7 linked regions of the Homo sapiens genome follow. The protein of the gene in region 1 interacts with the protein of each later gene in a biochemical or structural test. Each region holds a gene or a part of one and is shown in the gene's direction. Other genes may lie near its edges.

Region 1 (4,255 bases):
CTCCCAGGTTCAAGTGATTCTCCTCCCTCAGCCTCCTGAGTAGCTGGGACTACAGGTGCGTGCCACCACACCCAGCTAATTTTTGTATTTTTAGTAGAGACGTGGTTTCACCATGTTGGCCAGGATGGTCTTGATCTCTTGATCTTGTGATCCGCCTGCCTTGGCCTCCCGAGGTGCTGAGATTACAGGCGTGAGCCGCTGTGCCCGGCTGGTCTCATTTTTACCAACACTTGGACACCTCTAGTACTTGGCTTTACAAGCCCTAGACTTTATCATCCAAGTTAACACAACAGACCCTGTTGTCCTGGCCTCAGGACAGCCATCATCCTGCTTGGCTAAAAATAAAGGCAGCACTCATATAGTGTAGAATTAGTATTCCTACCGTGAGCAGGGGCACGCTTTGTGCTGTGGCTACCCCAAAGTCAATTCCCTGGCTGGGACCTGCCAGCTCAGGCAGTGGGAGTTGTACTGGGAGGAGGGTGGGAGAGATGGTAAGTTTGGATCTCAGTGTACTCAGTAGGGGGAAGGGGGTGGGGAACTGGGCTGCCTTACATGGGAGGCCTCCGGGCATCCCCAGGCAGCTGGTGGGAGGAGAGAGGGTGTCAGGGAGCTTTGCACTGCGGGGGGGCCTTCTCACTACTGTCACTCCTAGGGAGATCTCAGGATACCTAGGCGGAAGAAAATAAACACCAACTCTTTTGTCCCTTTCACCAAAGGCCAGCATGTTTCCGATGCCTGTCTAAGGTGAACCTGGCTTGTCCTGTTTACACGTCCTGGGATGTTACTGTAATTCCAGTATTCCAGAAGACTCTGTTTCTGGAGACTGGAGAGGCAAGTGTATTTTGGGGTAGCCATAATATCTTGGGTTGGTGGGTACAAGTTTGAACACCTAGTAATGCCCCTTACCCCTGAGGAATTCCAGGGACTGAGCCACCACAAATGTCTTCAGGAACCTGACCCCTCCACGTCATGAACACTAAGTAGCTCCTGACACTGCTTATGTTTGCTTGCAGGTGATCAAATGGAATCATACACTCTCTCCAAGAGCACGAAGGTTTCTTTTTCTTTTTCTGTTTAATAAAGCAAGATGTCAATAAACTCTACATTTTTGTGTGTTGGCCAATGGACACTTATAAAATGTCTGATTTCAGCTGTGTTTTCAGTTGAACACCCCCCACCACCCGCCCAACACCCTCTTTCTGGCACAGTGTGTTTTATGGAGATTTGGGTAAAACTAGATTGTGCTATATGGGTCTCCTGATGAAGAGAATTCACTTCCAAGGCTAAAGCAGCCATGCAAATATTATTACAAAACCACTCAGCATACAAAATTGGCATAGCTTTCCTCCACAGTTTGCCACTGCCCACTCTCCACTCCTACCCCGCCCTGGCCACCTTAATTCCCAGTATCATTAGGCCGAAAGAAGGGACAGCTGTCTCCAGAAAATGTGCTCCGAGTGTCCCCATCAGCGTGGATTCCCAAGAGAGAGCAGGCAGTGAGATGGCACAAGGAGAGGAAGGTACTGGAAAGAATTGCATTAACTCCTCTCTGGACTTACTGCTCATCTTTAAAAACCTAAGCAGATGTCAGGCTTATTGATTTCTTTATTGGTGGCAGCTGTGGAGCTGCAGTCCACTATTTTTGGCACCTGGGAGATGCACACGGCCCCTGAGCACACTTCCCGCCTTCTGATCCCTCACCTGCTCAGCTTCCCAGGCTCCGTCTTTATCTTGAGGATCTCTGAAGACTGCCTCTTCCCCTGTACTCTTCAGGATCCAGTACAATGCCTAGTACATGGGTAAAAATTAAAATTATTTGAATGTTCACTATTTGGCAGGCACTGTTCTAGACACTTGCCACATACAGCTCATTCAGTTCTCATAATCTGATGAGGTACATACTGTTATTACCCCATATTCATTTCCTGGGGCTGCCGTCAGAAATTAGCACAAACTTGTTGTCTTAAAACAACTGAAATTTATCCTCTCACAGTATCCTCTTCACAGGTCCGAAGTCTGAAATCAAGGTGTTGACAGGGCCGTGCTCCTTCTGGAAGCTCTAGGGGAGAATCCTTCCCTGCCTCTTGCAGCTTCTGGGAGCTGTGGACATTCCTTGCACTGCTTCAGCCCAGTCTATGCCTTTGTCTTCACGTTGCTTTGTCTGTGTGTCTGTGTCTTCTCTCTTGTCTGCATGTCTCTACTTTGTGTGTCTCATTTATAAGGACATTTGTCATTGGAGTTAGGGCTACCCAAATAATTCAGGATGATTCCAACTTGAGATTTTTAATTTAATTACATCTGCAGAGACACTTTTGCCAAATGAGGACACATTTGCAGGTTTTGGGATGTGGGTATATCTTTTGGGGAGCTACTATTCAACACAGTACAACCCCTTTTGTGATGGAAAAATGGTGATACATTGTGGTTACGGAATTCTCTGAGGTTGCACAGCCAGGAGTTGGTAGAATTGGAATTTACACACAGCAGCCTGGCTCTAGAGCTTGCATATGGACCACTACTCTCTTTTGCCTTTTAGTAAATGTGCTCCGTGATTGTTCACGGTATGAATGGAGGGCAGCATGGCTGGGGAAATAGATGGATGAAAAGATGCTGGTAACAGTAGTTGGCCAACATTCTCCTTCTCAATGTACTGAAAATAGTAACAACAACTGATATTCATTGTTTTATGCTCTTGACCTGGGACTCGTCCTTGGATCCTCTTTTTTGGCTATTCTAGGGAGAGCTCAACTATCTCGAGGCATTGCCTACCATTTATGCACTTCTGCCTTCCAAATTTATGTCCATAGCCTTGATTTCTCTGCTGTGTTCCAGACTCATGTGCCCCACTGCCCCCTTACCATTCCAGTGGGGGCGTTATAGGGATCTCTAACCTAACACAACAAAATGCAATCCTTGATATGTCTCTTTCAAGCTAGTTCTTTCCTTCTCCTCCTCCCGTCTCAGTAAATGGCACCACCATCCACCCAAAGGCTCATTCCCAAAACTAGAAACCACTCTTCATTCTCTTTTCCCGACACTCTGTATCCAAATCCAGGAATAAGTCCTGTTGGCCCCACCTCCAGCCTCCACCTTGTTCTCCCGCCTCCACAGCAGCCGCCCTTGTTAAAATCACTGCCATCTCACCCCTGGACCCATGCTGCAGTCATCTTCTAACCGGGCCACCTGAGGACACCCTTGACCCCAGTCCTTTTCCTCCGAGCAGCCAGAGGGGTCTTTTATTTTTTTAAGACTTTTTTTTTTTTAATATAGCAATTTTAGGTTCACAGCCAAATTGAGAAGAAATTACAGAGATTTCCTGTATACCTCTTGCCCCTACACATGCAGAGCCTCCACTCTCATCAACATCCTTCACCACATAGTTCATTTGTTACAGTCGATGAACCTGTGTTGGAACATCGTTATCCCTCGAGTCCATAGTTTACCTTAGGGGTTCACTCTTACATTCTATGGGTTTGGATAAATGTATAATGTCATGGGTTTGGATAATGTGTAATGTCATGTATCCACCATTATATTATATGAGTAGTTTCACTGGCCTAAAAATCTTCTGTGCTCTGACTCCTATTCATCCCTCCTGCCCCCCAACCCAGAGGGGTTTTTTTGTTTGTTTTTTTAAGAGATGGGGTCTCACTGTGTCGTGCAGGCTGGTCTCAAACTCCTGGGCCCAAGCGGTCCACCCGCTTTGGCCTCCCAGAGTTCTGGGATTACAGACATGAGCCACTGTGCCCGGCCAGAGGGGTCGTTTAAAAACACAAGTCGTATCACTCCCTGGCTTAAAACTGGACATTTCTCGTTGCCATTTCAGTGTGATTCAGGCTCCTTGCCCCAGTCCACCTCTCCTATGACTCCTTCTCTTAGCACTCATTGCCCTCACTCCATGCCTGACATGCTGTACTTCTTTCAGTTTTGGAACACACCAAGTTCCGTCCCATATCAGAGCTCTTTTTCTGCTTGGAAACATCTTCCCCCAGATCTTCACAAGAACATATGATCTAACAGGAAACAGGACCACCCCCAGGTACTCTATCACATGACTCCTGTTTGAAATAAAATATTTGATTTATTCATTTATTATCTGTCTTAGCTGTTGGATCATACGCTCCATTAAAGCAAAGAACTAGTTTGTGTATCTCACATGCTGAAAATAGTTCCTATTTCTGCCTTTCCTTTAAGGTTTCAAGGAAGAGGGTTTAAAATATCAAGTCTCGGCTGGGCGCGGCAGCGCATGCCTGTA
Region 2 (3,565 bases), on another chromosome or scaffold:
CTCCCAAAAGGGGAATTGAGGACAAAAATTTGGGCATATATGTTTTGTGTATTTCAATTCCAACTCTGCAATTCTTTCTTAAGTATAGCAATTGTTCTGTCTTAAGAATCATGGTATTTTTAAAAAATCATAATTTTCAAGTCAAGTTCAAGATCAAAAATATGTAATTATTTTAGTAGGGCTTAAATATCAGAAATGAGATGCATGATCTTGGGCAAATTTTATCTTCTTACACCTGAGTTTCCTACTCTGTGAAGGGAGGGGGAACTGATTTACACTTGATTATTTCTATCATTCATTTTCAGTGTAAATATTCTATGGTGTTATGTCAAAGGCATTTTATATATTGCCAGGAAATGAGTTACAGCAAAATGCATGCCAAAGTTATGAAATTTATGATAATTATGTGACATACATTGCACAGCTACTACTCAAAAAAGAATTTTGTAGATGTATGAAAGCAGATTATTCAACACAATGCATTCCTGAGAATAAAATGAACATAATCAGAGTAAAATATTTTTGAGGAGAAAACTTAAAATGTTGGTATAACTCAAAGTAATCTAATACACAACCTTGCACTAAATGTGATTGACATTTGGATTTGGGATGGGGAGAGATAGTTTCCTAAAATCACAGTAACTTTTAATAATTGTAATGCATTTTGAAAACAGAGAATCATATTTTTATAATGGTGAGAACTATGCAATAACTCTTTAGGAATGAAAACTTCCTTTAAGAAGTTTGCCACCGTTAGAGATGAGGAGATAGTGAGACAGAGAGATGTTCACAGAGACTCAGCAAATCTTAGACAATAATGCTGCAATTTTCTGAAAGAAGATGCTTGCAGTGTCAGGTATGGTTTGGGGGTTGGAAAAGTTACTTTTCTGATTTCTTGGAACCATTTAAAACTCCTTTATATCATTCTGTCTCTTTCCAAATTGAGGGTCAACTACTAGTTTAGAGATATAAGGTATTTTATCTTGTTTTCAAGTTCTACTTCAGAAGAAAACCTATTTCATGTTTCTTCTCCCATTACCTACTTAAGATACTTAAGGTATTTAAGTATGCATTTGAGGAAATATTTTCCTGTGCTAAAATAAAGGTTTGCAAATGTTGGTGTGAGAGGTTTTAACTTTGACCAGTGAGAATAAAATGTATGATTGTGTGTGTGAATTTCTCCTAACATATTAACCAACTCCTTTCTATATGCAACAAGGTAACCTGGTGCCCCAAATCAATACTTGTAAGTACTATTCAGAGTTAAACTTCCAAAGTCAAAAAATATATATACACAAAAAAAGGGGAAAAGCCACATTTTTTTGAACAGAGGTAGAAGAGAAAGAGAAAAAAAGTGTCTCAGCCCTTTAGAGGAAAAGAGAGCAACTCATTCTGATGAGTTACACAGTTTTAGCAAATTGTTCTTATCAATATAATAGACATGAGGATTGTTCCTGGTAGCCTTCAAGAGCTCCTAGACAGATATAAATTTAAGTAGACATTACTTTATTTTGCTGTTAATCCAAGTAGACATTGCGACTTGATTCTGAATAGGCATTTTATTTTCAAAATTTTTCTACTGAATTTCTCTTGCTCTGTATGCCTACTTATTGTGCACATGGGTTGTTTTTCCAAACTGCTTCTTGATTCTTAAGTGAGAATTCAGACATGATACTCAAACGAGAGCATATTAGACATCTGTTTTAAGATTTATTTTCTGTTGCAGTCATCTTGGCAAACAAAATCCAGATACAGTTAAGTTCAGGCTCTCTTCCAAACCCTGCTAAGCAGCTGCTTTGAAAATGTTTTCAATACTATGGATCTTAATATCCACTGAGATGACAAATGTAGGAAAGGAAGATTCATTCTGTTAAATGTTTTTTCTCTTTTGCAATGTCCAAGCTCTACTTATTTATTAATAGCCTCCCTCTGTACCCATAACATCATTTATTTGGTGAATTCACTGTTATTAATACTAGTATTTTATCACAGTAAAGAAAAGGTTTCTGAAAACCCACAACCTCACTATCCTAAAGCAACTACTGTGTTTCTATTTTGGTATATCATCTTCCAGGCTTCCTCCACATGCAAATGCAGCATACATATTATAATAGTGTGTTTTTCTTTTCTCTTTGAATTATATTCCATGCATGTTTCCATGTTTCTATGTAGTATTTCTAATTATCAATGAACGATTGTGTAATATGCCATTTTAGTGATGTTCCATAATTTATCATGCCATTCCTTATTGCTGGCAAGATACTAAGTTTTATGGATGATTTTGTATGTTTTTTTCCTATTGCTGGTTACACTGCTATATTATTTGTTATATGCCAATAGAGAGGAACTTTACTATTGAACAGGTATCTCCTTGTGGATGAGAGAGAGGAGGCAGAAATGTGTAAATGAATGGAACTCTCCATATTGTTGTGTGGGTCTTCCCTTCACTCTTGTGGATATAAGACCCAGGGTGGGAAACAAAACGATGCTTCTTCCAAAAGATCCTCCCATCAGGACCAGAACTAGTATGTTTAGGAGTAAGATGGAACATTTCCCCAGCTAAGATACCAGTGGTGTGTTTCTCACAATTAGATTACAGTGGTGTCAGTCTTCAAGAGCATCGTGTTCAACAAGCAAAATGATAAATAGATGTAAACAATAATAATGACTTTGTAATATGCCAAAAGCATTTTCTTAAAGTACCTCATCATATATTTTATAATAGATGTATTTCATATGTATATGTATTGTCGCCTATCAGTGACTTACAAATGAACTGGAATTTCAGGAATCTGATAGACTCTGCCCTTGAGTTTTCTGTGTTTCAGTTTCCTACTGGGAAAAACTAAACTGAGGATGGAAATGGGGACAAATGCTTGGTTTGCCCAAATATCTTAATAAAAGACTAGATTCCATTCAACCTCTTGTCCAGTTCACATAAAATCATGTAGACACCACTGAGTCTGAGACCATGACTTTGATTTCTCATGACCTACCGCAGGGTCCTCACTCTATGGGCACCCAACCAAAAGAAATGTGTACATGATGCTGCCCAGATACACAAACAGGCAGGCACTGATGTTAGATAGCCAGTCTTTGGCAAGTTGTTCCTGGGACTGACCCTTACTAGGGATTCTTTTTTTATTTTTCCCTTTATTCCTTCCCTGACCCCAGATTACAGCCTGCAGACTTGGTATTCTCGGTGATAGTACAAAGCTTTGCATGCTTTATCCCTAATAAGGTACAGAGTTACAAAATGAACCGATTACAAAACAGTACATAAAGCTATTAAAAATCTCCTGTGCTGCTCTTTGACAAATCTATCTTTAGAAAGTTGAACATAAAAGATAATTTTGCAATTAGTCACTTTCTTATTTTTCATGGTAATGAACTATTGTACATAAGACAACTCTTCAGTAGGAGGCCAGACCACATTTGTTTGAAAAAACTAGGCTTTTGAAAATCACCTGCCTGTATCTGAACATGAAAAGTATGGGCAATTATTTTCTTTCTTTCTTTCTTTCTTTTTTTGAGACAGGGCCTTGTTCTGTCATCCAGGCTGGAG
Region 3 (4,255 bases), on another chromosome or scaffold:
AAGTTTTAATTAATATTTTAAAATAGAAGAAATCAGACTTATTGTTATAATATCTTTGTCTTATCTGTTTTTGGTCATGCTGCATGTCTGATAAGCAGCATTGTGTAGTTAGTACTTTGCTGTTTTTACTTTAGCACTATAAGACAAAATTATTACAGTTCTCAGTGTATGCTGTCAACAGTCTAGGCTGTAGAACTTTTAATAAGTGTTACAAATGAATTTCTTTAAACTGTAAGTGCTTATTCAGATAATCACCTCACTAGAATATAAGATCCACGAACACATATTTTTGTCACTTTTGTTATCTACTGTGGTGGAGTGCCCAATACCTAAAGCAAACTAGGGCCTAGAGTAAATATTCAATAGTGATTTCATGAAGAAATGAATGGAGGAAGGGAGGATGGCAGGTACAGAGCAGGGGATAAAGGGAAGAATCAGTATTTTAGTTTAATTTTTGTGAGCTACACATTATTAACAGTTCTTTTATGGTTTTGTTTTTGTTAAGGATTTCTATATTCAAGATATTAATGCAGGCTTAAGAGATGAAACAGAAATACCTGAACAATTAGTAAGTACATTGACTTAATATTTAATTTTAAAAGATATTTATAAGCTCTCTTCATGATGTGAATAAGGCATGTTCTAATTTTTGTCTCAAGTCTGTTTTTAATTTAGAATGCATTTTCCTGTAGACTTAATATTGTTAGTGATGGTTAGTTCCTAGACCCAGACCAGCTCATGCCCCATAACAAAAGAAGCTACAATATGGCCCTGAATCCCCTTTGATTCTTGAACCCTTCTGAGCCTAGACTTGTTCTTGACCTTGAGGAAGTTAGGAAAATTAAAGTAGCACAGCAAAGACGGAGTAGAAATTTAGCAGTTGGACAATTCTGATGGCAGCTTAGGGAAAAGGCTTGATAGAGAGAAGAGCCTAAGCTGTCATGGGATTTGCCCAGTTGGTAAACCTCTACTCAGTCTCTGTTATGCTACTTTAAAGCAATTTTTGGCTACATTATTTAGTTTTATTTTTGTATATAGGTTCCAATTTCTTCTCTATCTGAAGAGCAGTTGGAAAAGTTAATTAAGAAATTGAGAAAAGCAAGTGAAGGTAAGACTGCCTAAAGTTGCAAGTTCAATTATTTTAGAGTAATTAGGTGGTATATGAGTTGATACCATTCTGGTTTAAAATATGTTACTACTATTGTTCAGAATCCTACAATTACATGTTTGGCTGCTTAAGCTGTTGTGCTTATATTTGGCACAGGCTTGAATTCTACACTTAAAGATCATATTATGTCCCATCCAGCATTACACGATGCACTTAATGACCCTAAAAATGGCGATTCTGCAACCAAGCACCTGAAACAGCAGGTATGTTTAGGCTATAGTAACTACTAAACATGGCCTTTGTTCATTTGTTAAAACTGTTTTAAATGTAATTATTAATAAGATTTTATTTTGTTTACCTTTGAGGGTACCAAATATTTCCATTTCAAAAATATATAGAAACATATACAAAAAATTGAGGGCATGGATGTGATTCTGAGTACCGTATATTAAATATTTAAAGGCAAGAGAGAAAAATTTTAAGTCAAATACAAATTATCAATGTAAGCATACTGCCTTATGCAGAAATTACCTTGCTGTTTTCCCATTTGAACCAAATGTGTTTACTCTAGTTTATAAAATAATCTTGTGAAGTTTGCAGGCTTCTATTTTAGGTAACATTGAAAATTTAAAGTTACTTGGTCCAAGAAGATGCTTTGTTGAGTTTGGAGCGGGAAAGGGAAAATTATCTCATTGGGTTGATATTGCCTTAAAAGATGCTGAAAAAGTTCACTTCATCCTAGTGGAAAAGGTGACCACAAGATTCAAGGTAAGTGAAACCATTGCTCTGTGTTAGTAACCAAACTTGTTTTCATTTTTTGTATTCAGGAAAAAAGTGATAGAAACATTTCTTAAAAGAAAGGAAAGGAATTTTCTTTATCTGTTTGTTGTAGCTTTTTATTAGTTCTAATTGTATTGATAACTCAAACTGAAGGTGAATTTTTTAATCTAAGTTTTGATAGTCCATTGATCTGAATTCTTAAAATTATTTGCAGAGACAGGAAAATATATAGAAAGAGCCAAGCTCAAGCTAGGAGTTAAAAGTCTTGGGCTCTACTCCTATCTTTGCCACTTGCCCTTCATTCATTAAACAATTTTTGAGCATACTGCCAGGCCCCACCCAGGCTGAAGTACAGTGGCAGGATCGTGGCTCACTGCAGCCTTGACCTCCTGGGCTCATATAATCCTCCCATTTCAGCCTCATGAGTAGCTGGGACTATAGTCCCACGCCACCATGCCCAGGTAATTTTTTAAAATTTTTTGTGGAGACAGGGTCTCACTTTGTCGCCCAGGCTGGTGTCGAACTCCTGAGCTTAAGCCATCCTCCCACCTTACCCTTCCAAAGTGCTGGAATTACAAGTGTGAGCCACTGTGCCCAGCCACTTTATTACTTATATTTAGAAAAGAGACCCAGGCAAATACATAAATGATTGTAGTGAAGTGTTAAAATACGAGAAAGGTCTGCACAGAGTACAGCATGGTTTCAAAGAAGGGAGTGACAAGTTCTATTGCAGGGAAGAGATGGAGAATGACTATGTAGAAAAGGTGATGCTTGAACTAAATCTTGAAAGGTGAATTGGTGTTTGTTAGAGAGTTTGAGAAGCATTCTAGGAAGCAAGAACAGTGTAACCAAATACCTGAAATAACAGGAAAATATGGAAACATTCCTGTATAATGGGAGTACATGGTGCAAAGTAGAGTTCAGCAATGATGGGACTGGAGAGGATGGCTAGCCTATAGAAGGTCTCATATTTTATGCTAAGGAAGGAGTTTGACTATGCTGCTGTCTGGTGGGGATACAATAGAAAAAAGATTTAGTTCTTGGCTTTGAGGAAGCTTACGTCTAGTGGAGTAGACATATAAATATTTGTGTTCAGTATGCTAAGTGTGTTTTGATAGTGGTAAGTACCCAATCCTATGGGAGCATGAAGATAGAGCACCAACCTCAGTCTAGTGTGGGTCATAGAAGTTTTTGCAGAAGTGACAGTTGAGATGAGATTGAAATAATATGTAAGAGTTGGTAAAGTAGAAGGAAATTTTTCAAAGTTTATCCTAGCAGCACCATTAAAACTATATTAGAAGAGTCTGATACTTAGAGAGATTAATAATAAAGATAATTTTTGTCCAACAATCCAAGTAAGAAAGAGGCCAGAGCTAAAGCTATTGCATTGGGATGGAGAGGAGGGCAAGAGTATGAGAAATATTAAGATGTTGGAAGCCACAAGAGTTGGTGATTTGTTAGTAATTGAATATGAGAGATAAGGAGTAATTCTCGGTAGGATTTTTATGGCTTAGGTGACTAAGTGGTGTTCTTTCCTGAGATAAGGAATGAAGGAGGCACAAGAGGAAGGATGGTTTTGGAGACAGAAATAATGAGTTCAGTTCTGAATGTGTCCAGTTTGCTGGTGAAGTAGAGCTTTCTAGTTCACAATTGAGTATGTGTCTGATGCCCATTGGAGAGGCCTGAGCCACAAATGTAGATCAGCCGGTCGTGGGCACATAGGTATAGATTAGAATGGTTGTGATCTTTCAGGAGAGCAAGAAGAGGAGCGAACCAAAAATAGTACACCAGGAGTGACAAAGATAAAGGAGCTAGTAGACAATCTTAGATAAATCACTTAAGATCTGTGAACTTCAGTTCCTTTGTCAGTGAATTGGGAATTTTTAGGGTTAAAGGAAATAATGTCTATGTAATAATTGATAAACATTTTCAAATCTTTTTTAAAAAGTGTGATATTTTGAAGTTCTCATCAAAGAATGTACAATCTTAATTTTTAAATATGTTCTGTTGCTCTGAATTTTGAAAACCAATAAAAATCTTTTTATTTTCATAAAGCTTTTTTAAATGTAAGAAGTGATTATTACAATAATGTTCTGTTTGTGCAGGTGGATGGAAAACACAGAAAGAAAAATTCAGTGTTTGAAAGACTTCAAATTGATATTCAACACTTGTGTTTGAGTAAGTTGTGTAACTTTCCATTGGTCTACAAATAAATCATAACTGTTTTAAACTCTGAGGTTGCTTAGAAATCCAATCATGCAGAACTGTGCTTCAGGGAAAACAGTCAAATCAATTCATTGTTAATATAGAATGTTTTATATAATGTTTTTAAATAGATGTAAATTGAATTAAGGTTGAGAATTTTAA
Region 4 (4,255 bases), on another chromosome or scaffold:
GCCCTCCTCATCGGGATCCTTCAGCCGGATGCCCCGAGGAGCCCAGACTTGTAGAGTGAGTGTGGGAGGGGCCGCAGTGAGAGCCTGCTGCCTGCGGACTTCCAGAGAGGACCCAGAGAGAGGGGGCGTGGCTGCGGCGGGGCTGCGTCGTTGGGACAGTTGGGTAGGTTGGAAAAGTCCCTGATAAAAGCCTCTGAAGCCTCTGCGCTGAGAAGCTTCGTGCAAGAATCCCCTGACCCTAGAGGTCTAGGCCAATTGTGTAGAATGCAGATCATCCTCCCTGCGGGTGTGAGGGGTACCGGAGGGGCTGGGGAAACCCTGCCCCAGGCAAGCACCCAACTGCAGAGAAGCTTCCTCCTCTCCCGGGAGCCTCCAGAGGCCCGTGTCCCTCCTGCGTGTTTTCATGGCGGCAGCATCTCACTGCGTTTGGGTTTGGGCTGCCTGGTAAGTGTCCCCCAGCCACGCCCAGAGGTGGACTGTCTGCCGAGACCTACATACACACACAAACACACACACACACACAACAGCCCCACCCCTGTCACTCCTAGTGACCACTCACAGCTCCCAGGCTTTCGATCCCAGCTCTCTCTTGTTGGGCAGATCACCGAGCATCACTGACCTCCACCTTCCAAATGCCATCCACTCAAAGCAGCCCGGAGACTCAGAGCCCAGGGCCCCCCTCAAATGCACCTCAAGGCATACAAGCTGGGCAGAGGCTCTGATATCAGAAGTCCCAGGACAGCCCAGCCAATGTCCCACTCCAGCCATCTGTGAGCCACACCTGAGCCTCTCTCCTATCTTGTGAGTCTGTGCTCTGTGATAGTGCCTGTGTCGCTGACCACCCCCAGACTTAGATGTCCCATGTGCTTCTGAAACACTCTGCATGTACTTTTATCACGATGCACTGTAACTGTCAATATTCAGATATGCATCATGAAGTGTGAGGGCAAAGGGAACTACACACACGTAGGCACAGGAGTAGCAGTATTGCTGGGTTGCTCTGTGGTTTGGGAGACGTAAAACGTGTAGCCTATGAGAAGAGGGGTCAAGAGATGAGGCCAGATGCCATCTGCAGGAGAATGGATAAATAAACCATGTATCCATAGACTGGACCACGGTACAAGGAAAAATAGCAAACTACTGATGCACACATGGATGAATTTCATGGATGTTATACTGCGCAAAATAAGCCAGGTCTGAAACTCAAGGTGTACACACCTTTTGATTCTGTGTAGATGAAGTTCAAAAACAGGGGAAACTTATCAATGGTGATAAAATCCAGGATAGCGGTTACCCATCTGTGTGTGTGCAGTGAGTGTACTAACTGGAAGAGAATGCTAGAAAACTTTCTGAAGGGCTGGGACAGTTCCATACCTTGACCTGGGTAGTGATGACATTGGTGCATGCATATGCAGAGCCATCAGGCTGTGCTGTGTGCTTCAGATACACACGCTTTCTAAATTTGACTGTCTACATGTTATGCCTTTGTTACAGTGAGAGAGAAGGCAGGAGGAGGCAGGGGGGAGGCTGTGAGCCCTGCTTAGTAATTGGTGTCCAGGCTGGAAGGCATACTTTGGTGGCCCCGTGCGGAGAGTGGATTATGCATATGTCTGAGAGTCGGCCAGGTGCTAAAGGACTCATCTCCACAGGCTGCCTGAGGTTGTGCAGGGGTCTGTGGATGAAGGGGAGAGGCAAGGGATGCTTTGTGCTAGGTCTTCAGTAATGGCATCATTGTCTCCCGGCCCAAAAGCCTGAAGAAAGGGCTGGCATTACATCTCCTACCTGTGCTTTGTGGCACCTGGAACATAATAGGTGCTCAGTAAATGTGTGCAGAAGAAGGAAACGGTAGAACCCATGTTCTATTCCCATCCTGCCACACCAAGGGTCTGGGTGGCAAAGCACAGCCCTCCATTTATTTATTATTTTAATTTTCTTTTATTGTGGCAAGAGCATATAGCATGAGCTCTACCCTCTTAACACACTTTTAAGTGTAAATATCATATCATTAACTACATATCATTAACTATGGATACATATCATGTGATACTGTTGCACATCAGACCCCTAGAACTCATCTATCTTGCCAAACTGAAACTTTATGCCCATTGATTAGCAATTCCCAATTTCCTAGCGCCCTTTCTCCCTGGAAACCACCATCCCACTCTTTGAGTCTACGCATTTGAGTATTTTAGAGACCCCCATGTAAGTGGAATCATGCAGTATTTCTCCTTCTGTGACTGGCTTATTTCGCTTAGCATAACAGCCCTCTATTTAAAGTCAACTCTCTTTACTTGTTGTGGGTTGGGGGTGAGTCCCCATTTTTGTGGCCTAAAAAAAAAATCTTTAACAGGACAGTTAATATTTATTGAGTAATTACTATGAATAAGCAATGAGCTAGGGTTGGGTTTTTTTCATGTTTTTAACATGGAAAGTTTCAAACACATACATTGATAGAGAGAACCCTGTTAGTATAATGAACCCCTGTGTACCTGTGACCCAGCTTCACCCCAAAGCTAACCTAGATTCTTTCCATCCTCACCCACTGTCCCATCACTGTAGATTCTTTTGGATTTTTGTTTGTTTGTTTTTTGAGATGGAGTCTCTCTGTCTCCCAGTCTGGAGTGCAGTGGCGCAATCTCAGCTTACCGCAACCTCCACCTCCCGGGTTCAAGTGATTCTCGTGCCTCAACCTCCCAAGAAGCTGGGATTATAGGTGTGCACCACCATGCCCAGCTAATTTTTGTATTTTTAGTAGAGACGGGGTTTCACCATGTTGGTCAGGCTGATATCAAACTCCTGACCTCAGGTGATCCACCCACCTCGGCCTCCCAAAGTGCTGGGATTACAGGCATGAACCACTGCACCCGGCCACTGTAGATTATTTTGAAGAACATCCAGATACAGTATCCCTTCATCTGTAAATCCTTCAATATATAGTTCTAGAAGATAATAACTGTAAAAAAAAAAAAAAAAAGCCCACAATCCATTATAACACATAAAATCATTTAATATCATCAAATATCTACTTAGTGTTGAAATGTTGCTGGCTGCCTCGTAAATTTTTGGTTGGTTTGTTTGAAGCAGAATCCACAGAAGGAGCACACGTTGCATATGGTCGATTTGCCTATTAGGTTTCTTTACTCGGTAAGCCTCCACTGCTTTTTTTTCTTTCCATTTATTTAGTGAAGACACCAGATTGTCCCCAGGTGTATCCTGTAGTTTGGAGTTTGCATCTCCACAGTGCCATTTAATGTGTCCCTCTGTTCCCTGTACTTCCTGGGTGCAGATTTGGCCTGGAAAGAATTCTTCTTTTCTGTGGTGTCAAGATTGACCAGAATTCATGTGCTGTCAGCCTGCTCTGTCCATTACAAAGTGACCCATCGGCCTTTCACCTGCTGGTTTTGGCAGCCATTGACCATGGCCTGGACCCATTATATCACTGGGGCTTGAAGTGGGGATATTCTAATCCTATCATACCTCCTTCATTTATTCACTAGCATTCTAAAATGATTTCACCACTAGCTGTTTGGTTAAATAGAATCTGTACAGCAAAGGCAGGGAAGATGTTCAATATTCCTCTTTATTTATCAGAGGAAGAGTCAGTTCTCTAGCATTCTTTCCAGACGTGACCACTGAGGCTGTTTGAGTACCATGGTAATGTCATTATTTTTAGACATCCTTGCTGTTCCAACACATCACAGACATCATTGTTTTGGGCTTGGCCAGTGGGTACTCCTTCCAGTTGGCTTCTGAGATCTTTGGCAGAACCTGGAGCATCTTGAGCTCTTCTTTGCTTTCTGATCTGATAAGATGCTTCAGGCTCAGCTTGCATTTTTTCTGCCCTAGACCTGGAATTAGCCATTTCCCTAAAGAGCCCTAGTCTGTTTCAATGGAAGATGACTGAGCTGTTCATTGATACTGAGTTGGTCACTGATTCAATGGACAGATCTAGGAAGTACATTTTATTTTCAGTAGAAGAAAAACACAACACTGATGGGGACTTCTGTCCTTGGACATATATTCCTCCTTCCCCTCCCCTGAAGATCTTGTCCTCTGCCCAGCTCCTGCTGATATGTTTGTCCCAAACATCTGAGGAACTGTTGATCACCCTGCTCCATTCATTAAAGATCTGGGCATCAGAATCACACTGTTTTTTCCTCACTCCCACCCCTACCCTGGTCATCAGTGTGACTCCACTGTACTGAGGCTGACCCATGATGACACTCTGGCCTTGAGACTACAATGACCTTCCCCT
Region 5 (4,255 bases), on another chromosome or scaffold:
AAGTGACTTTGTAAAGGTCATGCACTCATATAGTGCAGAGCCAGAATTCTCTGGAGATGTTATCATTTCTAGTCCCCTATTCCCCACACCTTGCTGCCTGCGTTAATGCTTCCTGCATTTTGACTTCTCTCATTTGCATCAAGAAGTAATTGGTGCTATTCACTGATTCTTCAAATCAACTGGAAATTCCCTGAGGGCAGGGTCTGTGAGCTTGGAACACAGTACGTGCCAAATTAATGTTAGTTGATTCACTGACACTAATGTAGGGGAAAAATTGGTGCAATAACATCCTGAGTGGGTACATGACTAGGGTGAAGAATTTTCACAAGGCCAAGAGCTTTCCTTTAAGGATTAAATCCAGCTAGCTCTGATCAGAATCAGAGAAATGCTACAGGAAAAAACAAGTTTGTTCTGGATCAATGTTTTCCTGAAGTTCAATCATGATCCTTGTCATGTCTAAAAATGCCTGTATATTTAATATAGGTATGTTTTCCCATTACTCATTAAAATAAGTATATGACTACTGAAAAATTTTTAAATGTTCTAAGAAATTAAGCCATGAGGAAACACTGCACTTGACCACTTTCTTGGTCCTGTCTGAGGATAGGAGGAAAGATAATAGGACTCAGTCATTGGAGAAGAATTTGGTTTCCTGTTGAGAAAGTAAAGGGGACTTATTTGTCCATCAGCATTTCCTGGATTAGGTGCTGTGGGCATGGAACAAGAGAAGGCACAAAGCCTGCTTGGGAAGAGTTGGCCATTTAGGGGAGAGGACGAGATGCCAACTAGGTTGGTAAAAGAGGGCTGCTGGGGCCATAGTGGTGCCAATTTACAAATGCAAATCCACTGGACCAGAGACAGTTAGGCCAAGAGAGCACTTAGAGATAATGACTCTTACCCTTCATTTTACAGAAGTGGAAACTAAGGTCAGAAAGTGAGTGGATATGAGCAAGATCACCTGAATGTGTGAATAAAGACCAGGGCACAAACACCCAGGTTGTCCGTGGCTAGGGATCCACCATATGTTAAGGTTTTGTTTAGTGTATTTCTGTTGAGGGGATGACAGAATGTTCCTTGGGTACCCAGTGTGGAAGGTGGATGTAGAACACAGGCAGCTGAATGCCATGGGTTAAAAGCCATCATGGCCAAATATGGACAGGTAGAAAGCATCCATGATTCCTCTTTGGACCCTTAGTTGGATCAAGAAGATTGTCTCTCTGGCTGAAACAAAACGATCGTTAAAAAGAAATGAGAATTGGGGAAATTTGAACATGGGCTCAGTATTCGCAGATATTGAGGGATAATTGTTAAATGTTAAAGGGTGATAATGGTATTGTGATTCTGTTAAAGAGGCACATATTTATATATTTGTGGATAAGATGACACAATGTCACTTTGCTTTAAGATAACCTAGCGGTAGGGGAGTGGTTGTGGAATCAGGTTGAGGCCTGGTGAAACAAGTGTGGCCTTGATTTGATACTTGGTGAAGCTGAGTGATGGGTACATGGACATTTATTAGACTATTCTCTCTCTTTTTGTGTATGTTTGAAATTTTCCATCATATAAATTGAAGGAAAAGATATCATGTTCCCCAAAGTACTGCAGGACTTTTGATAAATCCATGGTGGTTTCCCATGTGTGTACTTCACACATAGAAGGTCAGGGAGCCAGAAGTGGGTTTGTGTCTTAGTGAAGGAGCTAGTGCTGGTTATTTAACATCTCTGAGTTTCAGTTTCTCCATCTGTAAAATAAGAATAGTAATAATATCTTACATGTCAGTGTGGTGAGGATAAAATGAATTTAGTAGGTAGAATGCTCAGCTCACGGCCTAGCATGAAATTGAGGCTTAATATTTGTTTCCTTCTTCCATTTTCTTCTCAGGACTGGGATGCACATGTTGACTAAAACCACATTTTTCCATGTTGATAGCTTCTGGAGTCAAATCCTGCTGAGATAAAGTATTAGTTCTAGTGCAAGGATGGAGAGAACCTCTTAAGATTCACTCCTGCCAGGCACGGTGGCTCATGCCTATAATCCTAGCACTTTGGGAGGCAGAGGCAGGCAGATCACAAGGTCAAGAGATCGAGACCATCCTGGCCAACATGATGAAACCCCGTCTCTACTAAAATACAAAAAATTAGCCAGGCGTGGTGGCACGCGCCTGTAGTCCCAGCTACTCTGGAGGCTGAGGCAGGAGAATTGCTTGAACCCGGAAGGCGGAGGTTGCAGTGAGCCGAAATCGTACCACTGCACTCCAGCCTGGGCGACAGAGTGAGACTCCGTCTCAAAACAACAACAACAACAACAACAAAAACCACCACCACAACAAAACATTCACGTCTTTGGCTTTGACCAGTCTTCCCAGAAATCCTGGATCTCAGGACCTTAAACCTATCAGAAAATGGTCTAGGTTATCCACAGTGAGGTTCATTCTGATCACAGACAGCTACAGGAGCCAATCTGCTTTCCCAGTTGAGAAATGTGAAAACCAGGGAGGCTGAACTTTTTTAAACTAAATAAAATTCCGCTTGCAGAATGCCCTCATACCCTTGCTATCTGGAAGATTGAGCGTATCCTTACAAAGTTAATGACATGTGCTTATTGCAAAGTTAATGGCATAGAACTGCATCTTCTATTTATCTAGCTCTTTAAGTTTTAAAGAATTCTAACCAACTTTATATACCATGCAAATTGTGTTTCTCTCTCTACATACACCCACACATATATATATAATGTAGTTAGCCTGACTTGTTTTTTATTTTCTCTATCTGTACGGTTGTGAAAGTAACCTAAGACATAAGGAATTGATATCTGGAGAGCATTTTGATATACTTGGATGAAGTACTTTTGGTGTATTTGGAAGTAGCTATCATGATCTGTTTACTTAAATTCATGGCTGCAATCATCACCTCTTCTCTAGTGTGCATTCTACTTGCTCACTTCTTTTTGAATACATCTTATAATTCTTGCATTAGTGAAATCTACTCTTCTTGATAATAATACCTTATGGTTCTTTGGCACTGTTGGTTTTAAAAATATTTTTGCATTCATTATCTCATTTAATCCTCACAACAGTGTTGTGAACTAAGCAGGGCACATATTATTTCTATTTTACAGGTATATTTCATTGACTTTTCAATGTTGGAAGGTGCCTTTAAGATCATGGAGCCCGACTCCCTCTTTTTCACTCGTGAAAAGTCTGGGTCTCAAAGAGGATAAGAGAGCTGTCTGGTTTCAAAGTGCCCATCAGTGACAAAATCAGGATGAGAATTCTTGTGACCTTTCAGTCTGTAATGCTGGTGCAACCCTCACTTAAGCAAATTGCCTATTCTACTTGACTTAGATCTGTCCTAACCACCTGCAGCCAGGAACACCTGAAGGAGCTGGTTAGAAATGCAGATTCCTGGGCCACACCCCAGTCTGAGTAAATCAGACTCACAATGGGAGGCTCAGAAATCTGCATTTAAAACTCACTGGAGTTATTTTTCTGTACTGGGATGTGTGAAAGCTACCAGCTCATTGGAGTTAAGCTCTGTGGATCTGAGCCCCGTTTTATGCTGTGGTCTTGAGGTCTATGGCCACCATCATGAATTCCTCAGGGTCCTTGACTGGCTTTATCACCACATGTTGAACGCTCATTGCTCAGTGATATGTCTGGGATGGGTTTTCTTTCTTTCCAAAATTATTAGTTAGACTCTGCTTTGAGTCTAGCATTGCATTAGAAGCTGGGGTGAATGTTTAAGGGGCTGCTAGCAGAAAAGACTCAAGGGTGGCTAAGAGTGAAGGATATGCCCAGATGGGCAAGAGAGAAGGCTGGGCTGACCAACGGCACCGCCATTTTGGACACAGCAATTTGGGTGGCTGTTTGGATGATTCATGCTGCTTCTCTGCTCATGCTAAGTGTGAGTACACATCTGTGGGTGGTGGCCCTTGAGAACAGTGTTTGTTCCTCCTTTAGGGTGACAGAATGTGCCAGAGCCCATGCTTAGTGCTTTTGTACATTGCCTTTTTTAATCCTAAAAATGTCTCTATGAGGCAAGGAGTAAATGCAATTATCCCAATTTGAAAATGTGGAAATTAAAGCTCAAATAACTTGCTCAAATTCTTGTTAATTGGTAAGTAGTGAGGCAAAGACTCAAAATATTTGGTTGACTCTAAAATGAATGCCTTTGACCACCATAATATATAACTGTTTCTTATTATTCACGGATTCCATATTTGTGAATTTGCCTACTTGCTAAAATGTGTATCCACC
Region 6 (4,255 bases), on another chromosome or scaffold:
GTTGAGGCTGCAGTGAGCTGTGACTGCCCCACTGCGCTACAGCAAGAGCCTGTCAAAAAAAAAAATCTTCATTGGTAGAATTTTAAATTTGGGTGAGGGGAAGGAGAAAAGAAAGAAAAAAGAAAAGGAAATAAATTGCTTTTGCTGCTAAGGTTCTCCTCCCAATCTTTTTGTAAAGCAAGAGCAAACACGTAATATGTTACATCAATTCTAAAGTGCACATTTTATCATTTGTCAATGAAAAATGCACATCTTATCATTTGTCAATGAAAAATGCACATCTTATCATTTGTCAATGAAAAATGCACATCTTATCATTTGTCAATGAAAAATGCACATTTTATCATTTCTGAAATAGAGTTGTGTCTTATACCTTATGGTATGTTATAGTTTAATTGGCATATTTTTCTTAGTGGTACGCCGTATAATCATTGGCACCTTGGGTTTGCTGAAATGGTCATTTAAGGCTTACTTTGTATCAGGCACTGTTGTAAGTACAGAACTTCACATAATTAACTAATGTAATTCTCACAACACCTTGTGATATAGTTACTATTTTTAATCCCATTTTACAGATGGGGGACTGAGACCCAGAGAGATAAGTAACTTGCACATGGTCACCAGTAAGTGGTAGAGCCAGGATTTGAACCCAGACATCTGTATATAACTATTAGCTATACTAGGAACCTAGGCCCAGGAAAGAGCAAGAGAGGGCTGCCTTGTCAGGAAGGAGACCCTTAGGGGAGAGTCTTGGGAGTCTGGGCCTGGAGAGGGTCATTTATGTACAGTGCTGAAGACCCTTTTCTCTGTGTTTCAGTTGGAGAAGATCGGGGAGGACTCTAAGCAAGCCCTGCAGCAGCTCCAGGCCCAGCTGGAGGATTATAAGGAAAAGGCCCGGCGGGAGGTGGCAGATGCCCAGCGCCAGGCCAAGGATTGGGCCAGTGAGGCTGAGAAGACCTCTGGAGGACTGAGCCGACTTCAGGATGAGGTAGAAGTCTAATATCCTTGGGTTTGAAGGTCCTTGCCTCTTTTTTTTTTTTTTTTTTTTTGTCCGAGACAGAGTCTCACTCTGTCGCCCAGGCTGGAGTTCAGTGGCGCGATCTTGGCTCACTGCAAGCTCTGCCTCCGGGGTTCACACCATTCTCCTGCCTCAGCCTCACAAGTAGCTGGGACTACAGGTGCCTGCCACCACGCCTGGCTAATTTTTTATATTTTCAGTAGAGACGGGGTTTCACCGTGTTAGCCAGGATGGTCTCAATCTCCTGACCTCGTGATCCGCCCTCCTCGGCCTCCCAAAATGCTAGGATAACAGGCATGAGCCACTGCGCCCAGCCCGGTCCTTGCCTCTTAACTGAACCTGTGGCCAAGGGTCCCTGGGGCCCAGGTTTAGGTCTAATGACTTGCAGGGTGGAGGAATATATTGTCTGTAGAGCAGTGATTTTCAAATTCTGTAGCTTAGAGCCACCTGAGGAGATTTTTAAAAATCCCCACACCCAGGCTGTATCCCATACCACTTCAGTCATCATCTCTGGGGATGGGATCCAGGATCAGAATTTAAAAAAACTCCTCAGGTGATTCCAAGTTGTGTAGAGACTTTAAAAACAATAAAGAAGCTGAGGACGGTGGCTCACGCCTGTAATCCCAGCACGTTGGGAGGCTGAGGCGGGCAGATCATGAGGTCAGGTGTTCAAGACCAGCCTGGCCAACATGGTGAAACCTTGTCTTTACTAAAAATACAAAAATTAGCTGAGCGTGGTGGTGCATGCCTGTAGTCCCAGCTACTCAGGAGGCTGAGGCAGGAGAATTGCTTGAACCTGGGAGGTGGAGGTTGCAGTGAGCCGCGATTGTGCCACTGCATTCCAGCCTGGGCGACAGAGCAAGACTCCATCTCAAAAAACAAAAACAAAAACAATAAAGGAAATTAATGAGGGCAGGTGCAGTGGCTCTTGCCTGTAATCCCAGCACTTTGGGAGGCTGTGGCGGGCAGATCACGAGGTCAGGAGATTGAGACCATCTTGGCTAACACGGTGAAACCCCGTCTCTACTAAAAATACAAAAAATTAGCCAAGCGTGGTGGCACATGCCTGTAGTCCCAGCTACTCGGGAGGCCGAGGCAGGAGAATCACTTGAACCTGGGAGGTGGAGATTGCTGTAAGCTGAGATCGCACCACTGTACTCCAGCCTGGGCGACAGAGCGAGACTCCATCTAAAAAATGAAAAAAAAAGAAAATGGATGAAAAGTCAGTTTGCTTTTTATTGTCATCATGCCACTGGTAATTCTAAAGAGTGACAGTGATGAAATGTTTCTGCCCACTGGGCTGGACTGCTCCTGCCCCTCAACCCTCACCTTCTCACTACACTGAGCTGTGGCATTTTTACCCCCTGCCCAGATCCAGAGGCTGCGGCAGGCCCTGCAGGCATCCCAGGCTGAGCGGGACACAGCCCGGCTGGACAAAGAGCTACTGGCCCAGCGACTGCAGGGGCTGGAGCAAGAGGCAGAGAACAAGAAGCGTTCCCAGGACGACAGGGCCCGGCAGCTGAAGGGTCTCGAGGTGAGGGCACTGAGGTGTGACCTGTGGAAAAAGGGTGGGACTTCCAAGCCTCTTTCTGTACTAGCGGTCAAAACCGACAGCCCACAGTTGATGAGTTTTGTTTGGCTGCAGTATTTTCAACAACTTTGAATCAATTGCCAATGTTTAGAAATTTATAGAGGTCACCTAAAAATTTGGATTTCTAGTTTCTTTTGTATTTGGCAGATATGGTAATACTGAGTGTCTTGTCCTGAGTCTGCATGGCAACAGTTGGCTGGAGCTGAGCAGTGGGTTTCCCCTTTAGAGTGAACAGTATTCTTCAGTTTGCTATATTTGATAATAATAATAGCAGCAGCAAACATATTGTGCTGTGTGATAGGCACTTAAGACTTAATCCTCAGAATAACTCTGTGGGGTAGGTAGTCTTGTTTTCTCCATTTTACAGATGAAGGAAACTGAGGCACAGAGAGATGAACTTGTCCATGGTCTACTGCCAGGAAGTGGTAAATCTGATTTTCAGACTGGACAGTCTGGTCCCATGTACATACTCTTAGCCTCTACGTGGTACTGCCTCCAGTACCTCAGTTTCTGAGTCTCTTCACCTCAGCCTTGGCCCAGGTACTTGGGTTTCTCTCTCTTTTCCCATTAGAGAAATAAGGTTTTCCAATGAAGAGTAGATTCTGGGGTTTGCCTTTCTGTCAAAGGGCCGTCACCAGAGCATGGCCCCGACCTGCCCATGATGCCACATCTGGTCAGTAGAGGGCGCTGGCTCCATAGTGGCTCTGGGTCCAGGCAAGTACCAAAAGGTTACTGGGATGTGCAAGAGAGAAAAGTCTGTTAATGCTGGAGTTTGAGAGGCTCCTGGTCTGAGTTTGGCATTCTGGTGTCCAGCATTTGGGACAGAATTACTTGTTCTTCTGTCCTAGGAAAAAGTCTCACGGCTGGAAACAGAGTTAGATGAGGAGAAGAACACCGTGGAGCTGCTAACAGATCGGGTGAATCGTGGCCGGGACCAGGTAACCGCCCCCACCCCTCATCTCTGTTTACCCCTGACTGCATCACCTCTTGGTTCTCTCAAAAACAACTCTACCCTCCCATCTTTCATCATCTGGCTGCCGAATCTGTGCGTGGCTGGGTCTCCTTCAGGGTTTTGTCTGCTTTGGGAAAGGTTGGCCAGTTTCCTTGGGTGGAAAGAAGCCAATGATTTGCATGGAGGAAGGGATCCTGGTGGCCTGGGCTGTTCTCTGACCTGAATTGGGGCTTCTTTGGTTTACAAGGGATACTAGTTCCTGGAGGGACGAAGGAGGCTCTGTTTGCATTCTCTGGCCCCTCCCATTTGAATAGGCTGTGATTTTTTAGTTGCCTGGGAATTTTTGGATTCAGGGTTCAGAGACCATCCTCCCATGACTCAGCCTCACTTTGTTCAGCTTGCTGGTTCATCCTTAGCCCTCCCCAAGTCTGGTCCTCTCACCCATCCCCACTAGGTGGATCAGCTGAGGACAGAGCTCATGCAGGAAAGGTCTGCTCGGCAGGACCTGGAGTGTGACAAAATCTCCTTGGAGAGACAGGTGATGGGGGAGGGGAGGATTCTTAGGGATGGACCCCAGGAGGTGAGTAAAATGGCCAGTGGAGTGCTAACTGTGGAGGCTTCCTGTCCCTCTCAGAACAAGGACCTGAAGACCCGGTTGGCCAGCTCAGAAGGCTTCCAGAAGCCTAGTGCCAGC
Region 7 (3,884 bases), about 100 Mb from region 1:
CTGAGGTATCCAGAGCCATCTCTGGGCCACAGAGTTTGGGCAAGGAGACTGGGATGGTCTGTGATGGAGCCAGAACCATGGGACCCAGCATGTGGGACCATTGCCTCCTGGGCCTGCCTTTGTCCACCCTCTCAACATGAAAGAAAAGGGGCCAAGGCAGGGAGAGGCTTCACTGAACCAGAGGGAAGGATGTGCCCCAGCTTCTCCCTCACTATCTACCCCAATCCCATCTTGCTCTATTCCCTACCCTGCCTGGCTGGCATCCCTGGAGCCAGATGCTTACCACCTTCCAGGCAGTGCCCATTCTGGCAGGGGAAAGGCACTTAGAAGTTCTGGGCTAGGGGAAGCCAGGGGCCAAAGGAGCCCAGAGTAGTCACATGACTCAGACAAGGAGTCAAGGAGTGCTTCCTGGAGGAAGGGGTATTGAAGCCAAGACCTGAAGGGCTAGGAATGGTAAGGCAGGCAAAGGGGTATAGGGAGAGGAAGTGTGGCCCAGAGGTGAGGTCTTGCACCACAAGTTCAGAGAAAAGAAAGGTCCAGGGGAAGGGAGGACAAGATGGAAGGAGTGAGAGGACAGAGGTGAGAGATGAGGTGGTGGAGCAGGGCCACAGAAAGGCTCTTGGGCTTCTCTATCCTGGACCTCAGCTGTTCTTACAGGGATTCATGGCCACATCTGTGTCTCAGAAACTTGCTCTGATGGCCCCATGGACCCCAGACCTTAGGGGTAGGGGTACATGTTGCCATAGACAAATGAGCCAGGTTTGCCACAGGCCAGGCAGAGGGGAGCAGCAGGGTGTGGGCCTCAAGCTCATGCATGAGGCCCAGCCTCCCTCAGAGGTAGCAGTGCCAGGATGACGTGGTGGGGAGGGGGTTCAGTCTTCCAGGAGAGGCTCAGGGCCGGTGGGCCTGGGAGGCTGGCGACTGTAGAGCAGCTCCCCCTGCCCCCACACTTGTTCTCATTGACTCCCTTGAAGACCAGGCTGCCAGTGGCTCAGACTGGAGAAGGAGGGAGTTTCCACAAGCACCAGGGCAGCCCCTCAGCTGCTGCCCCACTTTTGTACTTAAAAGGTCATGGGCTCCATGGGTGGTGACAAAAACACCCCCACCCCACCCCTGCAGGGCTGAGTCCTTGCTAACACAGACACAGGGCCCATTGTCCCCATGCTGCTCCCACCCTCTGCCTGAGTGGGGGTGTTGGGGAGGGGGTGGAGCTAGCTGGAGCCATCGAGGAGGAGGAAACCACAGTTGGCCCTAGGACCAGCACAAGGTGCCCTGGCACACATCCCCGAGTGGGATGGGACAGGGCCAGCTGGAACTTCAGGCCCACCTTCCCTGTGGGGCGATAGGAGAACCTCCTTCTCTCAGGCCTCTTGTGGGAACACAGGAGGCACTTGGCCTAGCCCAGGGTGGAGGAAGGATAGTAACTTATTACTATCCTTCTGGGTTAGTAGGGTTTTCTGGAAGGAGTGGCAATTATGCTCAGAACCAGGTGATGGGGAGAAGCAAGTCAGGTGGAGCAGGCAGTCCTTGCACACTCAGCCTGTCCTCCCCAGACCAGCAGAGAGCTAGAACTGAGCCTCTAGGAGATGGCACCTGCTCATCTGGACTCAGCGCCTGCCTCCATCCAAGTTGAGTGTCCCAAAGCAGGTAGTTACCCCCATCCTGCTGAAAAATCCACTGAGGCTTCAACAACCAAGTGGGCAGCAGGCTGGTTCTCAGAGCAGAGGAGCATATGGTACGAGGTGTACCACCCACAGAGGGGGAAAATACAGGACTGGGGGCCCAGGAATTCCCCTGACAGCCATTCATCCAACAAGTATGTGCTTTATGCCAGGCACTATGCAATTGTCTTATTTCATCTCCACAAGGAACCTGATGTGGAAAGCATCACATTCCCCAGCTCATAGATAAAGAAACAGGTTCAGAGAGGTGAAGAGACTTGCCCAGTTAGGGGATAACCCTGGGACTCAAACTAAAACTGAGGTAGCCATGTGTGTCCTAGCCACAGAGTTCAGGCCTAGAGAGGCAGCTGCATGGGTGACCGTGGGAGGGGCAGTGGCTCTGATGGCCCTGCAGTGGACCCCTGCACCCTGCTGGGTAGGGGTGAGTGAGGGCCTCCTTCCTCCCAGTCCCAGTCCCTCCAACTCCTCCCTCCCACCAAAGCCTCTGCCCGGAGGCTGAGCCCCACCCCCACTGGCCACAGCCCATCTGGTCCCCATTAGAGGTCAGCCCTGCCTGCATGCTTGCCCGACAGACACACGTGTGAGAGCGCTCACGTTTCTCAGGGGCTTTTGTTGGGCCTGATGTGGATAGGGGTTTTCCTGTTGCTGCTGCATTGATGGGGGCCACCTGGGCAGCAAGACCCTCCTGTTTGTCTGTTGGGGTGGGGGAAATGGAGGGGGGCCCACCCAACTGCTGGTCTGCCTGTTCCCCAGGTTCCCACCCTACAAAAAGCAGGGGGTACTCAGGGCAGAACCCCACAGGCTCAACTATGCCTCAGAGCTTCCTAAGTCCAAACCAGGGTTCTTCCCACTACGATAGGCATCCTTTCCTGTCCACACTGGGCTCTCTGACCACACTGTAGAGCAGAGGAGGTTTACACGTCACTCCCAGGCTGAGGCTAAGACCTACCCCATGGCCTGGCCTCAGACATCATCCTAAAATCAGGCTGCTCTGGCTACTAGCCCAGTCTCAGCTATGGAGGCCACTATGGCCATTCCCAGGGTGACCAGTGCTGGCTCCAAGTCTCTGTAACCATGCGCATGTAGTTAGTTGTATGTAGGGAGATTGGTAGGTGCATATGTGTTGTCCTTATGTGTGTGTGTGTGTCTTTAAAGCATAATTGTGAGAGTGTGCATGCCCCTGTTTACATTGCTGTGGGGTGCTTGTGTGCACTTGCAAGCTGGGAACTGCACAGCTCTGGACTCTGCAGGGACAAAGATCCCCAGTCCCCACTCAGACCCCCACACACAGAGATACTGCCCTCTCCTCATGGCTGAGGGGGCAGGTTCAGGACACTCCCACCCAAAATGTTTCAGCCATGGGCACCAGGCTGGCTGTGGGGTAGTGGGGCAGAGAGCCTTGAGCCCTAGCCTGGTCTCTGCCCCTCATCTGCTGTGCCTGCAGAAGGCTACTCATTGTGGCCTGGAAAGCAGGAAATGGGGGACAGGTGTAGGCCCAGAAGGGGCTGACCTCACAATGGCACTCTTGAGCCTCAGCCTGCCCAAAGGGCCTTGGACACATGACAGTCAAGGACCCTTTCTGACTGTAGGACAGGAGTTACGTTTTTTGAGTTCCCAGCCATGGGCCTACCCAGTACCCACCACAGTTCAGGAAGGTGAGAAGGCTTGGCACCAGGGCCACCTCTGCCAGGAGGCCACATACTCTGCTGTAGCCACACAGACCTTAGGCTTCTTGGGATAGGCCTGCCCCAGTACTGTCCCTTCCTGAGTGGTGGTGGGCAGAACCACTGCAGGGCTCACAAGCCCAGGCTGAGTCTCAGCTGCCCAGGTTTTTGTGTCTGACTTTCCAAGGACGTTTCTCATTTCTGCAGGGGCATAACCAGTCCCCAGGCCCAGCCCTTCCCCAGAAATCCCTTCCCTGGCTGAGCACCACAGGCCAGAGATGCCGAAGCAGAGGAAGCCAACTGACATCCACCACCTGGCACAGCACAGCAGGGTGGGGGTGGGGTGAACAAGGAATGGCTGGAGGCCAGAGGGTCTCCCAGTGCCTTAGGCCTCTCTCTAATAGGACGGCAGCCCAACAACCAGCAGGCGGCCCTCAGGCACCGGGACTGGGCCAGAAGATGGCAGACCAAGCCTGGGATCTCCATATGGACAACCCCCTCGCTTTCCAGTCCCTCACAATGGCAGCAGCGAGGCCAC

Evidence for each region.
Region 2: the proteins of PDZD2 (region 1) and TMEM215 interact in a test that uses a peptide from one of them, tested with the Homo sapiens proteins (one large-scale study listed by IntAct).
Region 3: the proteins of PDZD2 (region 1) and TRMT13 interact in a test that uses a peptide from one of them, tested with the Homo sapiens proteins (one large-scale study listed by IntAct).
Region 4: the proteins of PDZD2 (region 1) and ADRA1D interact in a test that uses a peptide from one of them, tested with the Homo sapiens proteins (one large-scale study listed by IntAct).
Region 5: the proteins of PDZD2 (region 1) and CBY2 interact in a test that uses a peptide from one of them, tested with the Homo sapiens proteins (one large-scale study listed by IntAct).
Region 6: the proteins of PDZD2 (region 1) and CGN interact in a test that uses a peptide from one of them, tested with the Homo sapiens proteins (one large-scale study listed by IntAct).
Region 7: the proteins of PDZD2 (region 1) and PDLIM4 interact in a test that uses a peptide from one of them, tested with the Homo sapiens proteins (one large-scale study listed by IntAct).

What each region holds. Positions count from the first base shown.
Region 1 is NC_000005.10:31,645,425-31,649,679, forward strand, and holds part of PDZD2 (PDZ domain-containing protein 2), read left to right. Parts: intron 1-4,255.
Region 2 is NC_000009.12:32,786,282-32,789,846, forward strand, and holds the end of TMEM215 (transmembrane protein 215), read left to right. Parts: 3' UTR 1-2,920; downstream 2,921-3,565.
Region 3 is NC_000001.11:100,139,144-100,143,398, forward strand, and holds part of TRMT13 (tRNA:m(4)X modification enzyme TRM13 homolog), read left to right. Parts: intron 1-505; coding exon 506-568; intron 569-1,038; coding exon 1,039-1,108; intron 1,109-1,264; coding exon 1,265-1,371; intron 1,372-1,708; coding exon 1,709-1,876; intron 1,877-3,993; coding exon 3,994-4,066; exon of another isoform or gene 4,067-4,071; intron 4,072-4,255. UniProt on the Homo sapiens protein: tRNA methylase which 2'-O-methylates cytidine(4) in tRNA(Pro) and tRNA(Gly)(GCC), and adenosine(4) in tRNA(His).
Region 4 is NC_000020.11:4,239,127-4,243,381, reverse strand, and holds part of ADRA1D (alpha-1D adrenergic receptor), read left to right. Parts: intron 1-4,255. UniProt on the Homo sapiens protein: This alpha-adrenergic receptor mediates its effect through the influx of extracellular calcium.
Region 5 is NC_000013.11:45,708,237-45,712,491, forward strand, and holds part of CBY2 (protein chibby homolog 2), read left to right. Parts: intron 1-4,255.
Region 6 is NC_000001.11:151,531,585-151,535,839, forward strand, and holds part of CGN (cingulin), read left to right. Parts: intron 1-817; coding exon 818-988; intron 989-2,390; coding exon 2,391-2,552; intron 2,553-3,457; coding exon 3,458-3,547; intron 3,548-4,015; coding exon 4,016-4,099; intron 4,100-4,195; coding exon 4,196-4,255. UniProt on the Homo sapiens protein: Probably plays a role in the formation and regulation of the tight junction (TJ) paracellular permeability barrier.
Region 7 is NC_000005.10:132,267,165-132,271,048, forward strand, and holds part of PDLIM4 (PDZ and LIM domain protein 4), read left to right. Parts: intron 1-3,750; coding exon 3,751-3,884.